Homo sapiens: one gene and its partner. The protein of the gene in region 1 interacts with the protein of each later gene in a biochemical or structural test. Each region holds a gene or a part of one and is shown on either strand. Other genes may lie near its edges. The genes, in order: ACVR1 and BMP7.

What was found.
Region 2: the proteins of ACVR1 (region 1) and BMP7 form a complex in vitro, tested with the Homo sapiens proteins (2 studies listed by BioGRID).

What each region holds. Positions count from the first base shown.
Region 1 is NC_000002.12:157,735,848-157,740,522, forward strand, and holds the end of ACVR1 (activin receptor type-1 precursor), read right to left. Parts: intron 2,724-4,675; coding exon 2,593-2,723; intron 1,819-2,592; coding exon 1,684-1,818; 3' UTR 599-1,683; downstream 1-598. UniProt on the Homo sapiens protein: Bone morphogenetic protein (BMP) type I receptor that is involved in a wide variety of biological processes, including bone, heart, cartilage, nervous, and reproductive system development and regulation.
Region 2 is NC_000020.11:57,179,584-57,186,873, reverse strand, and holds part of BMP7 (bone morphogenetic protein 7 preproprotein), read left to right. Parts: intron 1-2,954; coding exon 2,955-3,152; intron 3,153-7,290. UniProt on the Homo sapiens protein: Growth factor of the TGF-beta superfamily that plays important role in various biological processes, including embryogenesis, hematopoiesis, neurogenesis and skeletal morphogenesis.

The DNA of each region.
Region 1 (4,675 bases):
GTAACACAAATTAAAATTTTGATTTGTAATTTAAAAAAATGTCATTCTAATATATACCCTCCAAGTAAATACATCCTAATGAAGTTATTAACTTACCTCTGGAAGACATTCCGGCATGTTCACACCTCTTCTCTTATTGGGCTACTGTTAACTCTACCTTTTAATCTTGTGTACAAGCAGTGAAAAAACCGAGAACGGACTCTCCCAAGCAGCAAGGGCGGATGCATAAGACCACTTTACACTCACGTGGAACCTTTCACTCAACAAAATGCTTTAACATCCTCCTTCCCGTTTACACTCACAACACCCCCCTGTGAGAAAGGCAGGTCAGAGAGATTTGTTACCCTCACCTTACAGCTGGAGAAACTGACTGAAAAAAAAACACAAAAAAACAAAAAAATCACAGCCAAAGGAAGAAACAAATTTTCTTATACCAAATTCAAGCTGTAAGACATCCTTATGATGTCTTACATAAGTTCATGAGTAGATTTAAAAAGCAAATTCAATTTACAAATTAGTTTTGTGCTTCTATTGCTCCCATAAGAAAATGCATAATGTTACACAGATCTTTTTTATATTTTGAAAAACAATTTCACTGTTTGACTTGAAAACAGTTTATTTAATTTATACAAATAACTACTAAATACAAAAAGTAGATTAAAACAAAATAGTTATTTTTTTCTGGCAGAGTTTAAATGCACGTAATGGATAATTCTGAAGAAAATGCATTTTCCCCGTAGCGTTCAGGACTAAAATTCTACTGAAATCTTTGCTTCTAAATCAGTAATATATTCGGTGGTGTCACGTGGGTAATGGCTAAATACGTTCTGCATATGAACTGAAAAAAAGTTACAGTCTACACACATACAAATGTGAAGCACTTAAAATGTGATTTTAACTGATAATAAAAGAAAATGTCCATTTTAGAGTATAGTGTTAAAAACATTTCTGTAATAAAATCATAAGACCACATAAAAATAAGCTTTAACATATGCACAAAGCAGTTTTGTAAAAACTACTAAGTGCACAAGTAATAAATAATTTGCAAAGTTGTGTATAAACAATTCCTAATGTTCGGCATCATTGTAAACATCAGCACATGTGTAAAATGCAGCAAAGTCTGACATTACATTTTGTTTTGCCAAATTGAATTCCTATTATCCAAAGACAGACCAGTGGAGTACGCAGCCAACATTTTGGCAAGTTGGGTCTTTAAAATTAAGAGTAACAGTGCAAGTAAGGAATGCAAAGAATTCCTAGTGCAATAAAGAAGAGAAGCACAGGCAATATTGCTGATTAAAAATTCACCACCTCCTTGAGTTTCCCGTGGGGAGTGTCTAGGAGACTTGTGAAAGCTATGCAAAGCCACTGACTTAATGCCCAGATCTCTTTTAGGATTTCTCTGTGTTCCTCCAGTCCCTACCTTTGCAACAGTGTCTGTCCAACATTAGTCTCTGCAGTGTGAACAGTTCGTGAAATGCCCAGTTCACAGTCATCGAGCGAGGTTAGGGTGGTTTTGATGTCTCCCCAACACATGGCTGGGTACGACGTCTGCCTTGTCAAAGCAGCCATTTGGGGAGGGAGACAGATGGATTCCATTCTGACAACCAGTCAGGCCAGCATTAGGTCCCAGCTGGACAATGACAACAACGTCAAATCTTCCTTCTTGACACTATGAAAATGTCAACAGTCAGTTTTCAATTTGTCGAGGGAATTATCAATTTTGGTCAAAGTCTTTTTGATACGCAGTGCTGTGAGTCTTGCGGATGGATTTTGATACCAGCATTCTTTCATTAGCTTGGCCAGAGAGGTTAATGTCTGAGGAGAGAAAGAACAAACACCACAATGACAAACTGGCTTTTTAATGGCCCTGGAAGCTGGGCTGATATCATGTCTACTATTCTGAAGAACTCGCAGGTCTTGTGAAATTAGAGTTATGTTACTGTCATCTTCTTCAAGCAAATATTCAACCTTTAACCACTGATAAAGAGGCCATTCTTAGAATTTCATGAACTCTGTCCTTTGGACTCTTAATGCTACCAATTTATTAGGTAAACGACATAGGCCAGATTGGACCCCTTAATGATTTTATGGGTGCCAAAAGCAGCAATACTAACCTAGAGATAATCCTGAAATTTCCAAATAGGGTCATTTCTCATTGTTTTATACCTGCTACTACTTATGAGTAGCAATACAGGATCTTCAGCATCCAGCAGCTTGTGTTTGGGATTTCAGATATACAGAGATGGAAAGGAGGTTAAAAGCTTCACTTAAAGTCTCTTGGTTTATACATGCAGTCTTAGGGCTAATAGCAGTAGTCATGAGTCTCCCGATTCCTGAAGCTGCATATTCACAGAAATTCTTACAAATATTGTCATTCACTAGCAACCCCTATGAGATATGGCTTCTTCAAGAATGGAGTATTTTTCTGAACTTACTCTTCTAGATCTAAACCCTTCTATATAAAATAGGAAGAGAAAACAACAGATCCACGGGACAGATCACTCAGATGCAATACCAGTTGAAACTCAAAGGGAAACAAATAGCAAACAATGGAAAAGAGCTCTAAAACTGAGAAACTGGCATTCTTACCGGGTCTGAGAACCATCTGTTGGGTATGTTTGGCCTTTGTTGATCCACACAGACTACCTTCCTCATATCTTCAAAACTTGGGTCATTGGGAACCACATCGTAGAACGGTGGCTTGTAATCCTCCACTATACCTGCACACAAGGACAAGAATTGTGTTCGGTTAGCAAGAGAGTACAGGTTGCCCCAAGGTTTCATTGATGGGTGTCACAGGTTATAATGTGACAGAAGAAAATACTAATCACCTTCCTCATACCTCAGGGCAGTCCTGGAAGCTAGAGGTAGGTCCTAAAACAGGTGGGAGAAAAAGGCAATAAATACACACCCTGCATGGTATTGGAAGAAGGATAATTGTTAGAAGGAAATACGTGAAAACTTCTCATGTAATCATAACTATTAGCAAAATTCTCCAACAGTGTATATTAACAGCTCTGTAACGCCCAACAGGGCACTGGAGACATAGAACAAAAATTCCTTTGGTGATAAAAACCACCCAAGCTACCTATGGAAAGTACCTGAATCTAGTGGTTTCAAACCATAAATAGAAATAAAAAGTTGTCCACAAACTAGAGCTAGGGAGTAATAAACCAAGACCATCATCAAAATACCCCTTTCTTTGTTAGAAAAGTATTTTGTTAAGAAAAACATTGCTATAAATTAATCTCTTCCATTAGGAGGGATGCAAATAATATCATAGGAAATACTCATTTCCTCATTCATTCATTCTACATGTACTGAGTACCCTCTAACTACAGGCACAGCTGTCTGACTGATGGCTCTATTATTTACTATCATATTGAAGGCACAAAATAAAATGTAAAGAGGATAGCCATGTGGGAAGGCAGAGGAAAAGAAGGATAAATAATGAACTCTTCCTCTGCCCAAAAGCAAATATGAACAGTAGCTAATACCAGCTTCTGCCCCTGCATGATTTCCAATGGCCTGGAAACTTTTTCTTTTCCAGCAGAATTATATCAACTCCTTAAACAGAAAAATTTTTAACTTCATCATTTGGAATTAGAAAATGGATTCTTCCCCTTCATAGAAATAAAACCAAGACATCTATTATTTCCTTTCCCTCAACAAAGGGTTCAAACAATGAGGTAATAACTTGGTTTACTGCTCTCTTTTCTTCCTCCAGGCGACTTTCTTCTATTCCTAAATACCTAAGAAGTTGTTGGAGGCGACAGAAGGAGTGTGAGGAAAGTTGTAATTCGGTTGTTCTAGTTCCTACAAGCCACCTGAAAAGCTTCAATTCCCTTTTCATTTATCACAGAAATTACTCAACAGTGGGAATCCATCCTTACAAATTCCATACAAATACAAACCATTTATGCAAAAGATTAGATATAAGGAGCATCTTTTCAAGAAATGCTACATATCTTTTTAAAACTTCACAAATTTGGCTAAATAAAGGTTTATATTTGAGATGGAAACAAGTCTAAATTATATTTTTTAAAAATCTAGGCTGGGTGTGGTCGTTCACGCCTGTAATCTCAGCACTTTGGGAGGTCGTGGTGGGTGGACCACTTGAGGTCAGTGTTCGAGACAAGCCTGGGCAACATGGCAAGACCCTGTCTCTACTAAAAATACAAAAATTAGCCGGGTGTGTTGGCGCGTGCCTGTAGTTCCAGCTAACTCAGGAGGCTGAGGCACAAGATTTGCTTGAACCCGGGAGGTGGATGTTGCAATGAGCCAAGATCAGACCACTGCACTCCAGCCTGGGTGACAGAGTGAGATTCTGTCTCAAAAAAAAAAAAAAACTAGTTAATTCCAAATAACTTACCCACATTGTGTAACTGCATTTGAAATGCATATCAGTCAGTGGATTAAAACCTTTCCTGGCAAATCATAAACATCATATTGGGTATAAACTGCTACTCTCAGAAATCTTGGAACACCTCATCTTAGAGGCCCTTCTTCTCCTGTAAGGATCCCAGGAAACATTCAAACAAAAATCTTTTAATTATTTTCAGTACTAACAGACACCATCTAAAATACAGCTGAACATGGACCTAGAGAGATATTTTATGCGTTTTCTAGGGTCACAAGAATTTACAGAAAACAGTAAGACACGTGCCCTTCA
Region 2 (7,290 bases), on another chromosome or scaffold:
ACGTTAAAGGGAGTTAAGGTAAAATAGCGGCGGGTGGGGGAAAATTTGTTCTTTTAAACACTAGTTGTTAAAAAACCAAAGTGAACCCCCTGGTGCTGATCTGGTCCTGGGAGGCTGGGTTTCTTGACTTCTGGCCCGTCTGGGGGACTCCAGGTGAAGTTAATTCCAGATGTGAACAGGCCCATCGCTTTTGCTGGCCTCTGACCCCTCCCATCTAACTTGGGGGCACCGTATCTGCAGAGGCTCAGCCTCCCAACTCCCCGTCATCCTCACCTGGGTTCAGATTCTACTTTGTTGCTTCCAAGCCGGGTATCCCTGGGCGGGTTATTCAGCCTCTCTGAGCTTGTGCTGTCATGAGTAAAACAGGCTTTGTTTCCACTGGATGCTTTATTTTTGGCTTTGAAATACTCATCACCCCCAGACATGGTATTACATATATATTTGCCAATGACCTCATCATTGTCAAAGCCAGTGGATAGATAGTGTGTTCTTAGGTCCATCTGCAGAGCAACGGACACGGAGTTTGCTCCCTCTATTTTCCTCCCCTGTTTTCCGGGACCCCATACCCTGTTGGTGTCCCCATTCTTCCTGCCCAAGCGTCTTCCAGATCCTTCCTTACCGGGTACTCCTGCACAGTCTCCGTTGCATTCCCCTGACCTCTCAGTGGAACACAGAGGCCACCTTCACATTGCTTGTCAGGCTGTACACACTTTCCCCAGGCGAGCTCATCCAGTCTTCTGGCTTTAAATGCCATCTCTACACTGGGGACACCCAAGCTTACATTACTGTCTGGACCACTGCCCTGAGCTAGCATTTATTGAGCACTTAGGGTATGCAAAGCTCTGTCCTGAGCTAGCATTTATTGAGTACTTAGGGTATGCAAAGCTCTGCCCTGAGCTAGCATTTATTGAGCACTTAGGGTATGCAAAGCTCTGCCCTGAGCTAGCATTTATTGAGCACTTAGGGTATGCAAAGCTCTGCCCTGAGCTAGCATTTATTGAGTACTTAGGGTATGCAAAGCTCTGCCCTGAGCTAGCATTTATTGAGTACTTAGGGTATGCAAAGCTCTGCCCTGAGCTAGCATTTATTGAGCACTTAGGGTGTGCAAAGCTGTGTCCTGAGCCCCAGCTGTGCATTAAGTGACAGAGGCAGGGCTTTGAACCTGCCTGGGCCCTACTCCCTCCCTCACTAGCCCAGAGCTCATCTCTTCCAACTGATCAATTGATCAAGCCTAGGCCAGACCTCTGCTGCCCACCTGACACCTTCCTTTTGGTGTCAAGTAGGGATTTCATACAATATCTGCTAAACGAAACTGCATTTTGTCTTCCACCCTCTATTTCCCAGCTTATGCTCCATTGCCTCAGTTTCCCTACCTTGGTAAACAGTCCCTCCCTTCTTCCAGGGGCTTGGGCCAAGAGCATGCCAGTCTCATGAGACTCCCCTTTTTCTCACACCTTTTATAATCCCTTCCCAAATTCAGTCCTAAATCTGCCACCTTCCTGGTTTGGAGGCTGTGTTCTTGTTATTCGAGACATCACCTTTGGGGGAAACTGGATGAAGGGCACTTGGGACCTCCCTGTACATCGTCTTTCAACTTCCTGTGAATCTATAATCATTTCACAACAAAAAGTTAAAACCAAAATAAATTCTAAAGATTTTAAAAATGAACTCTTGAGGATCTGGCCTTTTCTCACCAGCCTCCCTCCCCACTGCCCTGGGTCCAGTCTCACGTCACCTCCCACGTGGACCATTCTGTTGCCTCCACCTGGTCTCCCTGCTTCCAGGTTGACCCCTGCCATCGGCTCTCCAGGGGCAGCCTGAGTGGCCTTATAAACACCACTGAAAGTCCCACCCCAGTGGTTCTTGCTTCTTGTAGAGCGCCTTGGTGTCCTGACCAGGGCCCTGGATGCGAAGTCCCACTCACTGGGTGGCTTGAAACAATAGGGCTTTATTGTCTCACAGTCTGGAGGCGAGAAGTCTAAAGTCAAGGTGCCACAGGGTTGTCCTCTTACAAAGGCTCTAGGGAGGAATCCCTCCTTGCCTCTTCTGGCTTCAGAGGCTCCTGGCAATCTTTGGCATTTCATGGCCTCTGTCTTCCCCAGGCTGTCTGCATCTGTGTCTTTATGTGGCCTTCTTATGGGGACACTAGTCACTGGATTAAGGCTCATCCTAATCCAGGATGAGCTTATTTTAACTGACGACAGCACATCTGCAAAGACCCTGCTTCCAAATGAGGTCACATCCTGAGGCTCTGTGTGGGTGTGAATTTTAGAGGACATCAGCAACAGAGGACACTGGGCTGAGGCAGGTGCTCGTGTTGCCCATAGGACCCGACCTGACTCGTGCCCCTACTGCCCCTCCCAGTTGTCCCTGCTACTTGCCCCTGCCCCTTGAACACACCCTCCTTGCTCCTGCCTCCGGGCATTCACCTCTGCAGTTCCCTCTGCCTGGAATGCACTCTTCCCAAACATCCATTGGGCCCCCTCACTCACTGTTACCCAGATCTCTGCTCAGATGGCCCCTATAGTCATTAGGGTTGTTTGCAATTGTTCCCACCTTCCCTGGCACGGAGCAAGATTGCCCCCCAACTCCCTGAAATTAGGCAGATACCACGACCTGCTTTGGCCAATGGAATGTGAGTGGCACTTATGGGGTTCGCTAGCTTGCCACCTTCCGCACCCCTCAGCCTGGTTCCCCACCCCTTATATTTCCTGCCTGCCTTCCCCACTTGCATGGAAACCCAGAGAACAGGATGTTTTCTTGGCTGCTTTCACAGTTGTGTTCCAAGTTCCTTAAACAGTACCTGGCCTAGAGTGAGTACTCAATAAATACTTACTGGATGGAGGAATAAGGAGTTCATGAATGAACCGGGAGGCATAGCATCTCTGCAGCCCTGTCCCGCTCGTGGCCCTCCTGTAACTACTCTTCTGTGCACTTGGCTGCTTCCTGTCCAGGGCAGAGCATCAACCCCAAGTTGGCGGGCCTGATTGGGCGGCACGGGCCCCAGAACAAGCAGCCCTTCATGGTGGCTTTCTTCAAGGCCACGGAGGTCCACTTCCGCAGCATCCGGTCCACGGGGAGCAAACAGCGCAGCCAGAACCGCTCCAAGACGCCCAAGAACCAGGAAGCCCTGCGGATGGCCAACGTGGCAGGTATGCTTAGGTGGGAGGGATCACAGACCCACCACAGGAACCCAGCAGGGCCCCGGCGGGACCCGGCAGGAGACTGACTCAAAATCCATTCAGGTGCTCACCAGATGGCTCTGGAACAAATATAGCAGGAAGAAAACCCCCAAATCCACCCCTACACAGGACATCTTAATTCTGTAAAAATAAACTAGCTTAGAAATGCAAGTAGCAAAACATTCGTATAACACAACACCAAGCATGTAGATATTTAAATAAACAGAACAATGGCGGCACTTGCAGCTACACAGAGATGAAGGAAAGACCCTGAAACGTGGATGGGAAGACCCCTGGGGGGGCTTACCCCATGGAAGGAGGGGGAGGAAGAAATGGGGAGGTAGAAGAGTTTGCTGTATCTTTATTTCATAAATGAAAAATATTTTAAATTCATGGCAAACTTTAATACTTGATAAATATTATATATATATACACACACACACATTTTTTTTTTTTTGAGATGAAGTCTCACTCTGTCACCCAGGCTGCAGTGCAGTGGTGCGATCTCGGCTTACTGCAACTTCTGCCTCTCAGATTCAAGTGATTCTTCAGCCTCAGCCTCCCGAGTAGCTGGGACTACAGGTGTGCACCACTGTGTCCAGCTAATTTTTGTATTTTTAGTAGAGACGGGGTTTCACCATGTCGGTCAGGCCGGTCTCAAACTCCTGACCTCAAGTGATCCACCTGCCTTGGCCTCCCAAAGTGCTGGGATTACAGGCGTGAGCCACTGCACCCGGCCAGGTGGTAGGTGTTTTAAGAATATATGATGTGCGGTACTTTTCAGTTTGTTTGAAATGTTTATTTACGATAGGTTTTAAAAAAATTAAAGATAATATTTTTATTGCAAGCAAATCAAACATTAACAGTAAATATAAGTAAAGTTAACGCATTGTGCGAAGGAGACTTCCAGGAGGTCGTGCTCTGCAGGTCCTCTAAAGCAGACAGCTTTTAGCCCATCATGTTGTGTGGTTCTTGAGGCTCTGAGGTAGATGGCCTCCCACTTCACAGAGGGGAAAACTGAGGCTCAAAGAGGGTAAGTCGTTTGTCTAAGGGCACAGTGTAGGTAACTGGCAGCCCTGGGATTGGGTCCCTGGGGTCTGGGTTGTCCCTTGCCCCAGGCCCTCTTCCCTGTTGGGCATTGCCGGGGCCATCTACCTGGCCTGGATGAGCTTCGGTGTCCCCAGCAATCCCATTGGGTGCTTTCTGACAATTCACCAGGCATTCGTGGAGCCCCCACAGGAGCCTGGCTTTGTCCCGGGCACTGGGGCTGTGGCTGGGGTGCAATCCCTTTCCCCATAGGCTGATTGGGAAACCGACATTGACAGCCTCTGGTGGCCTGGGGGTGCTGGGATCCCCAGAAGGTGCATTCTGGTTTTGAGCTTTGGAGGTGGGCTGGCCTGGAGCAGACCTGCTGGCACTGTGGGCATCTGTGGACAGCCCTCCCACACCCCTTGCCTGGCTCATGCCCCCTGCACATGCAGTGTCAAGTCCGCCAGAAGATGCATCGGGACTCCTCCCAGACTAAAACCAAAGCTTCGAATAATGAACCTCACAACAAACCATTTTCCAGTGGACTGGAGGGGTGACACCTCCCAGATCCAAGGAGCCCAGTTTGCTCCCCATCCCCAATCCCATCCCGCCGGCCAGGGGAGCTGCTGCCCGGGGGTGCCGTTTCTCTGGCTCTTCAGGAAGCCATTTGCAATGAGCAGGGCAATAGCCTCTCCAAGATGCCAGTGTCTTAATCTCTGGAACCCGTGAATGTGTCACCCTCCAGGGCAAAGGGGAGTTACGACTGCCCTTGGAATCACAGGTGCTAATCAGCTGGCCTTCCAATACGCGGGCTCTGTGTAGCAGGGTGGTCCCATCGGTCCTTATAGGAGAGAGCCTTTTTGAGCTGTGGTTGGAGCCATGTAAGCACAGAGCACAGAGGGGTGGAGATGAGTGGGGCCACCAGCCCTGGGATGTGGGTGGCCTGGAGAAGCTGCACAAGGCAAGGAAGGGATCCTCCCCTAGAGCCCCCAGTTGCATTTACCTGCTAAGACTGGTGTTGGACTTCAGAGCCACAGAGCTATAATCCGCTTGTATTGTTTTGATAATTTGCTTGGTTAATTTGTTAAAGCAGCGATAGGAAAGAATACATCTTTGTTGGCAAAGTGATTTTCTTTTTCTTTTTTCTTTTCTTTTTTTTTTTTTTTAGAGACAGGGTCTCACGCCATTGCCCAGGCTGGCGTGCAGTGGTGTGAGCATGGCTTACTGTAGCCTTGACCTCCTGGGCTCAAGCAATCCTCCTGCCTGAGCCTCCCAGGTAGCTGGGACTATAGATGGATGCCACCACACCTGGCTATTTTTTGTAGAGACAGGGCCTCCCTATATTGCCTAGGCTGGTGTCGAGCTCTTGGGCTCAAGCTATCCTTCCACTTTGGCCTCCCAAAGTACTGAGATTACAGGCATGAGCTACTGCCCCCAGCCTCCTCAGAGTGCTTCCCTCATCCTGCTAAGGAGCTGGGACACAACCATCTGGGGGCCGGCTCAGGAGTTGCAGCCTTCTTGGCTCCAGGTTGATCACAAGGCAGAAAAAGGTCTGAGGTGCAAACCTGCCCTGCCACCATGTGGGAAGCTATTAGCTGCTTATCACCTCCGGGGCCTGCGGTTGGTCCCAGGAAGCACCCAAGGGGAGCAAGGGGCTATTGAGAAAGGTCCTGGCGAGGGGATAGCAGCAGCCCCACCCCCAAATTAACCCTCTAGTGCCAATAGCTTCTTCCTCCTTACCTAGCCTAGCTTGAAATTTATGTTCATTTTACTTTTCAAGGGAGAAGGCAGGTCAGTGGGGTTGGTGGCCTTTTTAAGACAAGGCTTCCTGACCCCTGGCGGGTGTCCTGGGGCCCCCGGATGGACCTCAGTGGGTCTGTGTGGCCCAGAGTGTGTAGGGATTCCGTATATTTTCTTTTCTGACAGTGGATCCATTTTTCCAGGTTTCTCAAAGGGGTCTTTGATCTCCCAAGTCAAAAACCAACCAAATTCCTTCATTTGTATTCGAAGCCTCTTTTATGCTGGACTCTTGAAGGCTAGGATTCAATGTCGAACACCCACACAAAGGCTGCCCTTGGGGGTGTTAATTTAGGACAGGAAGGAGGGGGTTGCCATTCACATCCATACATAGTAACAGACCCAGAGTCAGGGTGGTGCCTAGGGAACGCAGCCCATCCCGAGGGCTGCAGACAACATTTCGTGGCGAGCGAGCTGAGAGCTCTGGGTCCAGTGGGTGCCCACGAGGCCAGGCTGGTCCGGAGAGGATGCTCTGGGCTGTGGGACCTGCAGGGGCAGAGGCCTGTGCTGTGGGGTTTCCTGGCGCCTTTGGGGAGTGGGGAGGAGGCTGTGGGGGCTGAAGCAGGGGAGGGGAGTGAGGGTGGGCGGGTCAGGCATTCTCTTGGGAGTCACGTCTTGAGTTTGAACTTCATGCCAAGCATGTTCAGAAGTCTTTGCAGAGATTCAAGCTGTGGTGTGGGGTGCAGGTGATAAGATCATTCTGGCTGCTCTAAGAAAGGTGAGGAACAGGGTGGGTGCCGAGGGGGTGCTCAGAGGCCGGAGACTCCTTAGAGGATGTGGCAGATCATCCAGGCAGGAAGTGTAGGCAAACTGCATCCCGGCAGAGACTTCCGTGTCTTGGAGCTCCATCGGGTGCACCTGGGTAATGAGGGGGAGAGGAACTAGGCATCGCGGGCTTAGAATTCACTCTGATTTTCCCCACCGCCTCCTCATCAAAGCCCCACCAAGTCTCCATTTACACAGCCCCCAGGACGGGGCTCTCACTGTTTCCCGTGGCAGAAATTCATTGCTGGGAACCTGCCTCCTTCCCGCGGATGGCTCGTGGCCCTGTTTGCAGCTCTTCTAAAACCTGCCTGGAAGTTAAGAAAAAAATAAAATAAAAATACCGAGGCCTGGGCCCCACCCTAGGCTTAGGCCAGAGTCCTTGAGTGTGAGTGTGTACGCCTGTGTGCCTGCCCCTTTGAATCGCTCGTCCCCCCGGTTTTGGGCTGGAGCCCTGCCGTGGAGCCACACAAGTTGAATCTCTCGGCAGCCCTGTGTGTGCTGGGGCGGGGGCACATGC